2 separate regions of the Homo sapiens genome follow, and region 2 is linked to region 1. The links come from fine-mapping of genetic effects on gene expression. A gene starts in region 1. The other region holds a variant in brackets. All regions are shown on one strand. Distances are between the middles of the regions.

Region 1 (8,000 bases):
GAGATAGGAAAGATAGACAAGTGATTCTAATATATTGGCATCAATTGTTGGAGACAGTGGATCATATGATACAAGCCATATAAAGGTAAAAAGACCAGCTCCTGATCCCAAGGTGCTTTGAGTCTTACGTGTACAGCACACACTATATTATCTTTATTAAATGGTCTACATTCTCATCTTGAGCATGAAATTATTCTATTTTAGTCTGATCACAAAATCCATCAACAGTGGAAACAAATGGAAACTGAAATGCTTCAAAACAACCTGTTTTTCCCATGGTAATATCACAAGGGAGTTAGGCTGAGGTTTTAAAAGAGTGGGTATGTCAGTCTTTCTTATTCAGATCCTCTAGAGCAAGGTTTCTCAACCTTGAGAAACTATTTCTATTGACATTCTGGGCCAGACAATTCTTTGATGTAGGGGCTGTCCTCTGCACTGTAGGATGTTTAGCAGTATCCCTGGCGTCTACCCACTAGATGTCACTAGCACTTCCCACTTGTGATATCCAAAAATGTCTCCAGGCAATTTGGTGGGCAGGCTGAGTGAGGCAAATGTCCCCTGAGAGGCAAAATCACCCCCAGTTGAGAACCCCTGCTCTATAGGAAAATAATCAGATTTCTACGACTCTTCCACATCATACACAATAAAATTCTACTTAGAAATGCTACATGTGGCCGGGCACAGTGGCTCAAGCCTGTAATCCCAGCACTTTGGGAGGCCGAGGTGGGTGGATCATCTGAGGTCGGGAGTTCCAGACCATCCCGACCATCATGGTCAGGGTCTCTACTAACAATACAAAATTAGCCAGGCCTGGTGGTGCATGCCTGTAATCCCAGCTACTCAGGAAGCTGAGGCAGGAAAATTGCTTGAACCCAGGAGGCGGAGGTTGCGGTGAGCCGAGATCATCGTGCCATTATACTCCAGCCTGGGCAACAAGAGCAGAAACTCCATCTCAAAAAAAAAAAAAAAAAAAAGAAAGAAAGAAATGCTACATGTGACCAGCACTACTGGACCCTTTTCCTACCCCAGAAAATTATTCCCAACATACCTAAAATCTATGCAGCCTTGATGCTAAAAAGTAGTCTACTTTAGAAAGCCTTACCTCATTTACTAGTGAGGACTAGTAATGTGACTTAAATGTGACTTGCATAAACAGCTTACACTGCATTTTTGCAGACCTTCCCCTTCCCTCCTTGCCACACTTCTGGTGCAATTTTCTTCTTTGCCCCTTGACCCAATCATGAATATAGACATTTTATCCTTGATCTAAATCTGTGCTGTCCAGTGTAGTAGCCACGAGGTACATTTGGCTCTGCAACTGAGGAACTAAATTTTTAATTTTAATTAAACTTTAAAACTCATAATTCACTAGATAACTTTTAAGTATGTTTGAAATAATTTGGATATGTGAATCTATTTTTTTATTTTAAATTTTATGTAATCTCAATATAGATTATTTATGAAAATATGTGAATTGAGATGTCCAATAAGTATAAATACACTGGCTTTCAAAAAATGGAATATAGGATATTTCATTAATAATTTTTATATTGATTAGATGTTGATATAGTAATATTTTGGATATGATGGTTTAAACTAAAGATAATTTCACCTGTCTTTTTACATTTTTAATATGGCTATTAATAAGAATGTTTTAAATTACATAGGTGAATCCCATTATATTCCTATTTATTAGATAGAACTGACCTTCAGTTCTGCAGAAAACCATTCCACACGAAAGGGAGAGGTAATGCAAAGTCTCTGAATAGGGATGAATTTGGTGTGTTACAGGAACTGAAAAAGGCCACGTGTTGAAAGCACTGGATTAAGGGGAAGGTGACACAAGATTAGGTTAGAGAGGTGAACAGGGGCCAGGATGTGTATTCTAAACGTGATGGGGAACTACTAGAAGGGAGGAACATAATCCAATGTTTGTTTAGAAAAGATCATTCTGGCTCCTTAAAGAGGCAAGAATGAGAAAAGAGCAGAAGTAAGGAAATCAGTCCAGAGGCTACTGTAGTAACCCAAGTGAAAGAAGGTAGTGGCATGGACCATGGGTTCACAGTGGATATAAAGAGAAACAAACAGACTTAACGTACATTTTGGAGATGAAAATATAATCTTGCTCATTGTTGTAGATTCCTAAATTCTGCTTGAAAAGATGTTTCTGTATTAGGTTAAACAAATGAAATCCCTGTTTTTGTGGGTCAAAATGGTTAAATACCAGAAATGTAAAATGATTTAACCTAATAGAAACAAATAACGACAGAGAAGAATCAGAGGAATGATACAGGAGAAGGGACGTTGAAATGGGGCTTATTTATTAAAATGAAAATTTTTATTGTTCTCCTTAAATCTCTGTGGAAGCCACCCTTATCAAAAAAAAAAAAAAAAACCCTTTGTTGAAAGGCAAATTGCCAACAAACCCGATGAGATTCAGAACACTGCTGCAATAACATATCTCTGTAGAAACTTATACTTCCATCTGGATAGCAAATTTCCTAAGCTGATAAAACCAGGTTATCAATGAAAGGCCAGAGTACAGAATTTAAAGGAAGAATGCCTGGGTATGAATCTTTGTTCTGCCAGTTACTAGTTATATGACCTTGGCTAATACATTTTTCTCTCTGTGCCTCAGGTTCCCCATCTGTAAAACAGTATTATAATGATATCTACCTCATAAAGTAGGAATTAAATGAGTGACCAAATGTGAAGGGTTTAGAACAGTGGCTGGCCCATAATGTTAAAGTCTTAGCCCCTAACAGCGCACTTAGATCTTTTTGTTAGCATTAAATTCAGCATTTTCTTCCTATCAAAGCTGCTTAAATCAGTTAACTGGCATTTGATCTTCGTGGGCTCATTGTATTGTTGCTGTTGTGTATCTTTTTAAATAATACTCGTAATCTTAACAATTAGCATAATTTTGAACCGCTCCCTAATACCTAACCCCAATCCCAAACCGGACGGTCGAGCCTATCCACCGGCAGAGAACACCACCCAATCTCGCCCTCACTCTGACACTCACCGGCCAGACCTTTTCTTCCGTCCGTTTTCTGCCTCTGGCCCAGGGCCCAGCTCACGTAGCGTTTTCGGGGGCTGTTTGGGAACCGTTAGCAACCGGAAGTGGCTAGAGGTCGCGAGAGAACTGAAAAAGGGGACCGGCCTTTCCCGGCTGCCTAAGCACTTGGGTTCCGGCCTGGAAGGAGGCCCAGGGCTCCCACAAAGAGAAATAAGGGACCTATTTGGATGGATCCCAAGAAACACTGTCTGGCATCTGATTTGAACGAGGCTCGGCGCAGCCGGGCCCTTTTCGCAAAGTAGGCCCACTGCAGACCTGTGGGAACCTCCGGGATGCCTGGGGACCCGCATCTGCCGCTACCCGCAATTTCCTATCCCGACCCTCTCTGCAGTTGTCGACCCCGGCCGGCGGCTTTGAGCGTGGGGTCCCGCAGACCCTGGCACCTAGGGGGCCGAAGCCGAGGGATCTTGGGGTAGAAGAGCGGTCCTACAGAGCTGCCGCTTCGAAAGAGCCCCCAATCGACCGCTGATGGGGAATGGAGGATTTTGCTGTTTTATTGCAGCCCGCCCCCGGAGAAAGGCGGGCTCGGACGTTCTTGACTTTAGGATAGACTGGGGAGGGGTGCCGAGGAGCGTTCTTCCCTTTACGTCTCGCGGTCGCAGACTGTATTTGCTGGTGCCCTGCTCACTGTGATCTCGCAGGACCTTGCGGACTTACGGAGACGAAAAGTGGCCTACTTTGAGCTTCTCTGATCCTTAGGGGAAATGAGTGTCCAAAGAGAAATAGGTGCAGAGTGCCGGCACTAGAATTCTTTAAACCTGGATTCAAATTCTGACTCCACCACTCTCCAGTTAGGACTGAGGGCAATTTATTTTTAACTTCTCCAAGCCTCTGTTTACTCGTTTATGTAACTCAGGCTAATAACGTAGTGTCTATTTCATAGGGTGGCTTTGACTATTAAGTGTGAGAGTGCATGTAAGAACAGTCTAAGGGAATTTCCCTGCCTTTCCCCTTGTCTGCTGTCACTCTCATCCGTGTTAGACAAATGGAATTAATTAACCAACTTCCGCTTTTCTGAAGCACGGGTAAAGAGTGAAGTGCAGGACTTGGGTAAAGGAAAAACCAAGAAGGATGCAAAAGATGGATGGTCATTGTGAGATCCACAGAGGTGCTCATCCCAGCACTTTCACCTCACTTGGCATCTGTCACATGGTGGGTGCTTGATAAGTACATGGGTGAATGAGGACCTACCTAAGCAGAAGGAATTATTGAATAAGACTAGAATTGCAGGGAGAGGATGAATCAGATTGATTAGCTACTTGACAAAAAAAGGCAAACCACTCTTCCTGTCAGAAATGTATGGCACATCTGCATATTTCAAGGGCTGCCACTTACTGCAACTGGGAAGGAGATCTCAGAACCGACACCTCAACTATGGAAGCTTTAATCTATTGACAGCAAATGCAACATAGCAAGTAATATAAGACAGAATGTGATCAGTGCAAAATCGAATAATAAAGTCTTGAGAGGGGGTTATTAGAATAATAGACGAGTGTTTAGATTGAGTAGTGAGCAATGAGATAAGTCCTTTGACTTGGGGGTACAGGGGAATTATGACCAGGGGTATGGGATAGGGAGAAGGTCATTCTGGAAGGCAATAAAAGGCAGACAGGACGCTAGTGGTAGAAAAAAAGGAAAACACTTGTTTATCAATGTAAATCAATGGCGGAAGAATTACATATGACATATGCTATTGAGGAATACCTTTCAACCGTTCAAATGACAAAAGGAGTGTCAGAACAATATATATTCCATTTTTGTTGAAAAAATTTGTTTATATAGATATAATTTGTGGGGTATTTGTACAAGAAAAGGATGCACTCCAAACTTAACAGTGATTACCCCATATTGAAAATTGTGAAACTTTTACCCTACTTGCAAGCTAACAATTTAACTTGCCACAGTTTTATGGATACTAACAGAAGACACTGGACTCCTGCGTCAGAGACAGAAGACTTTATTACTTAATAACACAGGCATCATAAGCTTTATATTCCCTTGTTCCCAAAGCTTATGTTCCCAAAGCCCACAGAGGGGCCTAAGCTTGGCATTCCCCTGCTAGGATGGAACAGTGGGTTTGCAACCTAGCAGAGGAATGCCAAGCTTAGGAAGCCCAACCTTTGCTCAGCCTTGCCCCAGAATGAGCCATTATCTTTATTATCCTGGTCAGGAAACAACTGTGATCTAGAAGGAGATACAAACATCCTTGAAAACCTAACCTCAAAGAAAAATCTACCATAAGACTAGGAGTAATTTGAGAAGCCATTAAAGAATTATCTCCCAACATTCTAGGTAAATACTATTTGAGGGTGGAGATGTCAGCTTTTAAGAATTTTATATAATATTAATCTTTATCATGTTTCATTTATTTTTAAAAATACAAAAAATAAAAGGCAAGCATAGAAGTTTAAATTTTACTTAGAGATAAGGAACCACTCAGGGTCAGTGATTGGAAGAATGATAATGATATTTAAGGACCACGTCTTGTATAGTTAGGAAGGCTATCTCAAGGCTGTTGCAGTCACATAGGTGTGAAGTAATTAGAACTGAGGATGGTGGTTATATTAATGGAGAAAAGTAACACTTCAAAGGAGAAATCTGGCTCTGATAATTTCTCCTTTATCTCCATGTTTCATTGAGTAAACTAAGGAAGCCTCTCAAGCCTGAATAACTTAGAAATTGGCGATATTATCAACCATTCTAACGGATATGTGGTGGTAACTCATTGAGGTTTTAACTTTGCATTTCCCTGATGAATAATGGTTACTTTTTAGTGTGCATACTGGCCATTCTTTTATCTTTTGTAAAGAAAGTGTTTAAATCTTTTGCCTATTGGTGTTGAATTATCTTATTCATTAAATTGTGAGAGTTCTTTATATATTCTGGATAGTTCTTTGTCAGATAGATGTATTACAAATATTTTTCAGTGTGTAGCTTTTTCTTCACTTTCTTAATGGTGCTTTTTTTGAGAAGATTTAAATTTTGATGAGAATTTAAGTTTAAAATTTTGAAGTCAAATTTATCAGTTTTATCTATTACAATCAGTGTCTGTGTGTCCAGTTTGAGAAAACTACCTATGGCATGACGCTATTTTACTTCCTATGTGTACACAACTTTGTACATAGTATGTGCAGTCATAGTTGTGTGCACATTGAATTTGTACAACTACATATGTGCACAACTTCAGACTTAAAAAAAATTTATTTGTTTATTTATGTTGAGACAGGGTCTTGCTCTATTGCCCAGGCTGGAGTGCAATGGCAGGATCTCAGCTCACTGCAGCTTCTGCCTCCCAGGCTCATGCGATTCTCCCGCCTCAGCCTCTGGAGTAGCTGGGACTACAGGAGCCCACTACCATGCCTGGCTAATTTTTGTATTTTTTGCAGAGATGGGTTTTTGCCATGTTGGCCAGGCTGGTCTCAAACTCCTGAGCTCAGGTGATCCTCCCGCGGCTTCACAAAGTGCTGGGATTACAGGCATGAGCCACCGCGCTCAGCCAAAAAAGTTACTTTTAAAATGTGAAAAAAGAAACTGAAAGTAGAGTTCTAGTCTGTCACCAGTTACTTCCAGTTACCATCCCAGGTGGAAAGCAACAGCTGTGAAATAAAAAGCAAAAATAATTACTTTGAAGGAGTCCAGAAGCACTGTAGCTTCCCAGTGTTTACTATTATTTACTTGTTTTCATGTGATAATTAGATGACAAAACCCTTAAATCAAAACGACTTTGTCAGTACGCAAAATATTGGGGAGTTAGTAATTGGGAAGGGATAGAAATGTTGGTGGTGGCTACCAGCAGGAGCAGATAAAGAGGGAAATTAAGGTGAAAATTGGAGGAGCCCTGAGAACTCAATAATAGGTGGTTGGGAAAGGTGCTGAAGGAAATAAATACATGAGACTTAAACAACAAAAAATAACACTTGCCACAACCTCCACCCCTGAAATCCTATTAGTCTCAAAAGTTAAAAAGCTCTAATGCAACAGGTCTGTAAAGAATGAACACAGGGCCAGGGTGGTGTCTCATGCCTGTAATCCGAGGACTTTGGGAGACTGAGGCAGGAGGATCACTTGAGCCCAGGAGTTCAAGACCAGCCTGGGCAACATAGTGAGACCCCCGCCCCGCCCCGCCACCCCGTTTCTACAAATTTTCTTTTTTAAGCTGAGGGTGGTGCACACCTGTAGTCCCAGCTACTTGGGGGGCTAAGGTGGGAAGACTGCTTGAGCCCAGAAGGTTGAGTCTGCCGTGAGCTATGATCACACCACTACACTCTGCAATAGAGACCCTGTCTCAAAAAAAAAAAAAAAAGGCAAAAAAAGAAAAAAAGACTAACAAAGAAAGAATGAACATAGATTTGTTCCCCATATCTTGTGGTATTAAACCTAGGGTCTACTCTTCAAGCTTACATCATAGGTTTAGCATTAAAACAGCTAAGCAGCAAAGCAGATGCTGTAAGCGATAGAAATTCATTAAGATAGGAAAGAGTGGGAAATATGTAAAGATCCAAAAAGAATATATATTTAATTACGATTTTTTTGAATACTTAATAAAATATGCTATTCCTAAGTGCCATGCCATAGGGATTTCACAAAACTATGAACTGTGATTAGCAGGAATTCCTCATGAAGTTTGTACTCTATGTGAGAGGTCTGGATATGTTTATGAATCGAGAACAGTAAAGTACAGGGTATGTAACGGAGCCAAACGCGAATCCAGTTGGAATCCTAAGGATCCATGAAGTGCTCCCTCCTCCAACACTTTCCCAGCCTCCTATTCACAGCTCCAGCCTCCCCACGTCCGATATCTACCCCCAGGGGACCGTTACTATTGACAGCGAGCGCGCGGAGCTGCATGGGCACACAAGGCGGAGGGGACACCAAGGTCCGTTATTCCCCAGCACGTTCACTGCCCCAGCGACAGCGCAAG
Region 2 (8,542 bases), 190 kb before region 1:
CTGCTTCCAACTCTCTTTCATGCTTCTCCAATTTTATCTTGAGAACATGCTCAGGATAGCAAAGTGAAAAATGACATACACTGAGTAGAGCTATTTTAGCCCAGTTTTCTTTCTCAACTGATGCTTCAGCCAAGGCTAGTAAAATTATTGTGCCAAACTGTATTGTCCACAGACACATGAATGAGACCTGAGGAGCTGAACCACTCAGCTAAACCAGGGACTTCTAAGCAAAAATAAGTATTTTTGGATGTCCCAGGGATTTTGTGGTTATTTCTTCCATAGTATTATATTGAAAATAGATAGCAGATACAATTTATGACTCCTTTTGTAGGGCCACCATAATTTAAATACCAAATCTGATAAGGACATTGCAAGAAAGGAAAACTAGGGACCAATCTCTTGTGAGCCTAGATATAAAAATCCTAAACAATTTTGTTAACCAATTTTATCTAGTGTTATACAAGAAGTATAGCATATTGCACTCGTGTTGTTTATCGCAGGATAGAGTGGTGTAACATCTGAAAATCATTTCGTACTATTTATCAATTTTTTAAAAAAATTTGGCAAATCTCTACAGATTTGGACAAAGCATTTGATAAAATCAAACCCCTATTTAAATCTTAGCAAACTAGGAATACAGTGAAAACTCACTTAAGCTGATGAAGAATACTTACAAGAAACCTGCAGCAGACATCATACACAACTATAAGGTATTGAATGAGACACAGAGGCCCACAATCATCACTTCTTTTTGGCATTATACTGATGGTCCTAGCTTGTGTAATAAGACAAGAAAAATAAATAAAATACACTAGAAATGGAAAGAAGTATAATTATCATTTTTTTCCCAATGACATGATTGTGTGTGTTCAAATGCAAAAGAGTCTACAAAGAAACTATTAGACTAATTAAATGCGTTCATGAAGGTCACTGGAAAACAGATCAATGCACAAAAATCAATTGTATCTATACATATCAGCAACAGATAAATAGTAAAATGAAATGGGGAGACAATTTGATCAAGATTTTGTGACAATAAAAATGACAGATTTTACTACAGGAGGTATTTTTAAAAGGAAGCCTCAAAAGAACACTTTTATCTTTGTACTCAAATAACTTCTTTTTGATAATTGCAGCATCAAATTAAGTGAATCACTAATTTGACTGTCCTGTTTTGAAGGAAACCTTATTGTTGTCTTCGGTTACTCCAGATATTTCTCTTATCACGTGATCTTACTATTCACTGTTTTAAAATCATTATTCTTATGAATTTCAGTATGGAAGGTTTTTATAATTGTAGAATTTCAGCATCTCCCCACACCACCCTCATTTCCTCTTAATGTGAGCCAACATCTTCAGCCTTTTCTGCTGTTATAGAATTTCTTTTACAGAAAATACAACTGGCTCACCTGCCTTATTGACATAGAATTTGATTCTAATTTTCAGCAAATTTGCAAGACAGAATTTTATATAAAACATTATGTTCTACCTCATTACTTTTCCTTTCCACAGTGCATTCATCATATATATACATGAAAGAACTTATTTCCACTCAATAATTTTTGCAAAACATTCAGTGCAAAGAATAACATAAAGTATATTTCAACCAAATATGGGCATCAGAATGAGATAAATATTGCTAAGGATTTATTCAGCTCCCCCACTAAAACATTCACACATTCCTATGCTTTCACAAACTAGAATACTATTTCTAAGACCACTAAGTTCTGTAAGGTTCTCAATGTCACACTTTTCCAAATTTTCCTATGCATTTGTGTCTAGCTTCCATTCTTGAATCCTTGCTTTTGGGGGCCTAGCTAGACCCTGCCTGAACTCTACATATACCCAATATACAGGTATAAGATACCAAGATTACATTTATGAAAAGGCCTGAATTCTTCCAGAATCATGCCCACTCTAATTTTGGGGGCAGTAATTAAAATTTGTTGAGTCATAATATCAGTTCATGGAAACCCATCTAATCCAAGAATGCTCCAAGTTTTATCTGAGCTTCTACATACTAAACATAATGATGTTGCTGACCTTCCCATCATAAAAGGGAAAATGTAAACTAAGAATGAGGTTTGGGTATCCTACTTTAATTTATACTGCAAATCAGCCTTGCTTCAGAACATGTTAAATTTTTACTTAGTCTCTCAAATATTTAATACTTGGTGTTTCCTAAAGTACTATTAAAACTGTCTTTCTCAATGCTCAGTTCCCTCTTATATACAAAGTTCTTCCTGAGAGCTAAGCCTGACTGATCCAACCCCCAAGGCTAGTCACTAAAATATTACTGTAGCCAAGCCTATTTCATTCTGATATAAGGAGAGGTAATTGATTAGATGGTCAGAAATTAATACACAAAATTATAGTTATATTGTTTCAAGAGATCTTTCACTACTAATCAAGTAAGTGGTCCTCTGGGAAATTAGAGTAAGTGGGGAGTGTTGAGTTTGGCAAGAATCATCCTTAAGCATTAGTCAAAGAGGAGAAATTAAACTTAAACCAAAATGTAGATTCATAGTATATCTAGGCTTTCTAACAAATTATGTTAATTTTGGAAAGTTTGTTTAACCTCTCTAAGCCTCCATTTCCACATTAAAAAAATAAAGATAAAGTGTAGCAATTTTATAGGACATTGTAAGCATAGTAAACATTGATACTATTATTATTAAACTACAGATTCTTCCCTGTTTCCAGTCCCTTTGATAACTGAGCATTATTTCTTAATTTTTCACTTTAAGGACTACTGAATTTTTTTAGTTTATTTACCTTGGTTCACTCTGCAAACTAAAGATTTGTCTTTATTTTCTTATTTGTTTAGCCCTCTGTTTTTTTTTCTTTAAATACTATTGCCTTTATTTAAATTATCTATTGTAAGCATTTATGAGAAAAAAGAAAATCCAACATTATAAACATTTTCCTCTGACTAATCCCGCCCTCACGCTCACTCTTACTTTCAGAGATAAGCACTGTTATTAGTTTGGGAAGGTTTTAAATGCTATACATTATTTTTTGTGGATTACATCTTAGTCTTTTTCCCTGGTTTACTTGATGCCCCTTCCTTCTCCCTTCACAGCTATCAGCCTCTGTGCTCCAGATTGCCCACATGAAGGAGCTAACAAGTGTTCTTTATTCTTCTTCACTCTCGTATAATTCCATGCAGGCGCACAATACATACAGTTATATTGAGAGTGTTTTAGTCATTGTTTATATAATTAAGATCATGTTATTTATTCTTTTTTACATCTTCATTTTCTCACTCAGCAACATCACAGGCAAATACTTCTGGATTAGGTTAATTACTAGTCAATTTCCTATTGAGAAACTAATTTTTTCTCTACTTTGGCCACCACAAACATTGCTACAATAAAAATTATTGTTTCTACGATTTGTGTACCAGTATATTTTATTCCATAGGATAGATTTCCATGAATGCCATTGCTATGTTGATGAACAGAGTATTTTTTTCAAGATTAACTGCCCTATTTATTTCTAAAATGTCAGTGACACTTTGAATTTCTAACCATAATTTATGAGAGGTTTTTTCCTTCAGCAACATTCAGGAGTTACTGCTAGTTACATTGTTTTTTCAATCTGATAAGTGACTCATCATTACTACTTTAATATATTTGTCTGAATATTTGGGAATTTAAAATCTTATATAGATTTGCTATTCTGAGTTCACAGTATGTATATGGTCATATTATTTAGCATTTTTTCAATTGTGTTATTTGTGTTTTTCTTGGGCTTTATAAAAACTCTATTTATATTGTAGATACCAACCTTTTACATAACCACAAATATATTTTCTCATATCTACTCATCCTTGAAAGCTGAGGAAACTATATATTAGAATGTATAAAAACAAATCCTGTATAGAAAAACTATAGAAAAATATAAATCTCTTTTTAATCTTGGAAAAAAATCTAGGAAATTACATTGACCC[G/A]AAGAGCTTTTCAACTAAGGCTAGAAATTCAAAATCTATGAAAGAAAAGAAGCCTATTTGGATATATAATGAAGAAAACTACTTTATGTAAATCAAGGTAAAAATATTTCTACATCAAATTAACTGGAAGCCTATTTTATTGCATAGATACTGACCTCAGGATTTCAGAGTAAATGGACAGTTTTCTGTGGCTTGACAGAACTTGATTAGTAAAAAGGAAACGAACACTCAGTTTAATGGCACAAAATCCAGACTTTATTTGATAAAGTATTTTAGTCCCTGCTGTCGTTCCCTTTTGTCTCAGAAACAATTGAGGAGACAATCCCCAGAGAAAGGGTATCAGGGAGCAAATCTAAACTAAAATGAAGTATCACATCACAGAGATCTCCTCCTTCTCTCTTCCCATCAGATACCATGGTCAATTACCATAAACCACATGAGGGTTGTTATCTTCCCCTGTAAGCCAGAGAACACCCGACATTCAAAAATAGTTTCCTATCCCTCTCATTTATTTTGTAAACCTGGTGAGGAGAATTCTGGAAAGATCAATAAATACCTTCATACTTGGTAATATAATATCAGAAAAACATGTCTGATCATCTGTAATGCTTTGTACCTATTCTCATATTTTCTAAATTAATCCTGAATGGATATCTTATAATTTGCCACTTACAGCGTGAAACAAGGGAAAAATGAACAAACTTCACCATATCAGTTTTTACAATTAATAGCTTACGAAGAGGTTATTGAATCCACATGCCTCCAGTTCATCCTATTTGAATTTAAAGCTTCTTGGACACACAAATCATCCTATCACTAATGCTTAAAATAGAGGTATGTAGAACACATTTAAGAAATTTATTATATAAAACCTGCTAAAATTTGGGTGTTTTGAGCACTTATGGACGTTTATGATTATCTCACTCAGAAAAATTTGACTAAGGCTCCAGTTTCTTAATTCCATTTATTTGTTTTATACTGCTATTTGCAATGTTTTGTTATCTCTACTGGAAATTAAAACTTGAGAGCAGAGCAGTCTTAGATTTGAACCTTCTGTCTGCCTATGAAAATAATCTAGCCTATGAAAATAATCTCTCTGAACCTCTAAATTCAGATTTCTACCTGAATAATTAACCTTTTGTGAAACAGACAAAAAATATTGGCAAACTTTTCATCTATTCTAAGCCAAATTGCACTGTTGTGTGAAAAATTACTCCTAGTATTTATCCTTATACTCCAGCAGGAACATGGGGGTTCACTGTAGTATATTTAAAGCTTTTTATACATTCTCAGAGGTATGATAATTATAGAAAACTTAGAAGCAAACAATTTTTATGTCGAATGGAAAACAGAAAACTCTGGTGTTACCATAGATTAAACTGCTTCCCAAAGCCATTGAGTAACTTGCCCAGTAGTGAAGTGACTTAGTAGCAGCATCTAAACTACAGCTGTTGTCATATTTCTTATCTCAATGCTCACTGCATAGTAAACAGCTTAAAATAAAGTTTTCAGGACTTTGTTGAACCTCGTCATTCAGAATCCTCTGTCAGCCATATACTGAATAACTTCAGTATGTAGCTGATGGATGCAATCCCAACTAATATACAAGCAAACGGGTGGTGATTGTATTTATTCAGACAATAAAATTGAAATATCCTGAGTTATGTATAGATAAAAGTTCTAAAGGTCCAAATAACCCTTTTCAACTGTTGCTTTTTACAGTACTCAATTTTGTTTTTGCTTTGTTTGTTATGTTTTGTTTTGAGACAGGGTCTCTGTTGCCCAGGCTGGAGTGCAGTGGTGCGATCATGTCTCACTGCAGCCTCAACCTCCTGGGCTCAAACAATCCTCCCACATCAGCCTCCTGAGTAGCTGAAACTACAGGCGCATGCCACCACACTCAGCTAATTTTGTATTTTTGGTAGAGACAGGGTTTTGCCATGTTGCCCAGGCTGGACTGGACTCAAGCGATCTGCCTCAGCTTCCCAAAAATGCTGGGAATTCCCAGACTCAAGCAATCAGCCCCAGCTTCCCGCTGGGATTACAGGCAGGAGCCACTGTGCCTGGCCCAATACTCACTTTTTCTTACCTGCAGTTGTAAGATAGTTGCTATGCAATCTGATCCCTTTTGTCTCACATTATGAAAATATGTTCCTATGTTGACCAAAGGAAAGCTCGTTAACTCAAAATGAGAATGATATCCTCTGAAGATGCTGTAAACAGAATTCTATTCAGGACCAGAGAAATAGATTGTGTAGCCTTTTGCGATCTCAGCCATGACTGGGCACCACCATCAGCACAGGTGTAATCAGGTAAATAATTGGTTATGCTATCTGCGAGGATTTCAGAGATACAAGATTCCTACTTGTTTCCATTGTTAACAAGTCCTTCCAATCCAATGATAGTGATAAGAATAACAATTCAAATTACTTGAAACTTCTGTGTGCAAGATAATATTTCAACTTTTTTTTTTTTTTTTGAGATGGAGTCTCACTCTGTTGCCCAGGCTGGAGTGCAGTGGCACTATCTCAGCTCACTGCAACCTCCATCTCTCAGGTTCAAGTGATTCTCATGCCTCAGCCTCCTGAGTAGCTGGGATTATAGGTGTGTGCTACCATGCCCAGCTAATTTTTGTATTTTTAGTAGTGAAGGGGTTTCACCATGTTGGCCAGGCTGGTCTTGAACTCCTGACCTCAGGTGATCCACCCACTTCAGCCTTCCAAAATGCTGGGATTACAGGCGTGAGCCACCACACCCAGACAATTTTTCAACTTTTTAACAAAAGTTCTCTCTTTTAGAGTGGATATGTAAAGAGGTTACTGGATATTTGAAAGATGGGGAAATTTTGCCCCAAAAGTTAGCAAAGCAGAATATAAGAATGAGTTGTACTACAGTCTCCCCAGTACTTTTGTTCTCATGCAGGAGAAATTTGGGGCAAAATTTCCCTCACTGCTGTGGATCATGGACATTACCTATAACAGAAGTGCATTTAATACTTTTGTAATTGCTGAACCTCAGTGAGAAAGAGTAGAAGTTAATTGAATTCCTCCCTTCTAGAATTTTCATTAGTCAGGGCTTCTTGGAGAGTTTGTTTTTGGCTGTATTCTAGCAGAGAAATGCCAGATACAGGGCTGGTCAGGGAAAGCCACTGGCCCAAGTAAGGAGAAAGCATATGCAGTGTCCTCAGTGATGAGGTATCTCTTGAACAATAATTTGAAAATTATTTTAGTCTCCAATATTACAGCTAGAGAGACCTTATAACTTATCACCCAAACATGAACTCTTTTGAAGACTGAAGGGTTCTATTAGTAATTGTGTCAGAACAGCAGGAGTAAACTCGCAGTCCTGTGCAAACTGAGATATGCAGTGACCCTAATTATATAGACTGAGGGTATTTTCCAACACTTGTTAATTCAAGGAAATTGTGAACTTGTGAAATCTCTTTTTATGGATTCCATTTGTTCTGCTTTTCAGAATTCCTATAATGAGTGGCAACTCTTTTTGATTTTTTTTTGTCAATAAGATGCCGAATGCCCAATGCCCTTGCATTCCAGTCTTTAGAAAATGTCCATGTAGATTAATGTAGATCCTGTTTTAAAAATTTGTTGAGATAAAAGTCTAAATTCATATAAGATTGTTTCAGTTATAAAGTCTAAAGCAATGCTTGTCTTTATAGTAAAACATACAGTATGAATATGTCCTCACTTAAAGTTATTATATAATACATAATAATCTTTATTAATAATAAAAAGCATTATATTTGTTAAAAATTAGAAAAAGCAAGGATAAAGTTAAATATCAAAATCTGATTTTTCTCCCTCTTTCCATTTCCATTCCCCAGAAGTAACAGCTTTTAACACTTCTGTATACTTCCAGGTAATTTTATACATATATGAATACTGACCAATATGATTATATTCCCTTATGTAAACACATGGAAGCATGCTAAATACATGTTCAGAAACTTGTTTTTTTCCTTAAGGATTTGAATGTTTTTGTACATGTATATCTATATCTGAATTTATATCTATACCACATTCCTAATTTTATTGACAGCTGCATAGCATGTCAATAATATGCAGCTGTCAATAATATGCAGGGACTCATTTGAGAGGCTATAAAAGCTTTCCCTGCCATTTTATACTGAGAACTGTAGAATAAGTGAGCAAAATTGAAATACATATTGAATAATAGTTTAAAATTTATGATCCTATCCTTAAATTGACATTTTTACACTAACAAAATTATAATAAAACAATAGAGGGTGGTGGTAGCAAGATAGATGATTTGGAAATTTTTAACTGGTAGCATTGACTTATATTAGTACTTAGCAAATTTAGGGCTCTGAACAGCCTCTGCCCCGAATGTCTCAGAGTTCCTGTGTCATATGATACTTTCATTCACATTGCTGTGTGCCATTATACCAGGTAATTTACATTAAAGATCACATTTATACTTCACATCAGATAGTTATTATTATCTCTGTTGTTAAAGTTGATGGTATTGGAGTTGTGGAGAGAACAAGATAAATATTACCTCACAGAGTCATTTTTTATTGGCAACCCCAGGACATTTAAAGTTCTGAAAATC

Evidence for each region. PIP is the estimated chance that this variant, and not a neighbour inherited with it, causes the effect. A credible set is the group of variants that fine-mapping cannot tell apart.
Region 2: its variant is the best candidate, but not a certain one, in a credible set for the expression of ZSCAN16-AS1 in whole blood (TOPMed, PIP 0.75).

Annotation. Positions count from the first base shown.
Region 1 is chr6:28,133,720-28,141,719 of GRCh38, forward strand. It overlaps ZSCAN16-AS1 (ZSCAN16 antisense RNA 1), which reads right to left and starts at 3,597. Exons shown (of 2, transcript NR_103456.1): 1 at 3,026-3,597. It also overlaps a transcript of ZKSCAN8 not described here. RefSeq lists an enhancer at 3,768-3,957.
Region 2 is chr6:27,947,671-27,956,212 of GRCh38, forward strand. No RefSeq gene overlaps it. Among named protein-coding and RNA genes, the nearest start is that of OR2B6, 5.3 kb to the right of the region's middle. The variant G/A (reference allele first, on the strand shown) is at 3,953.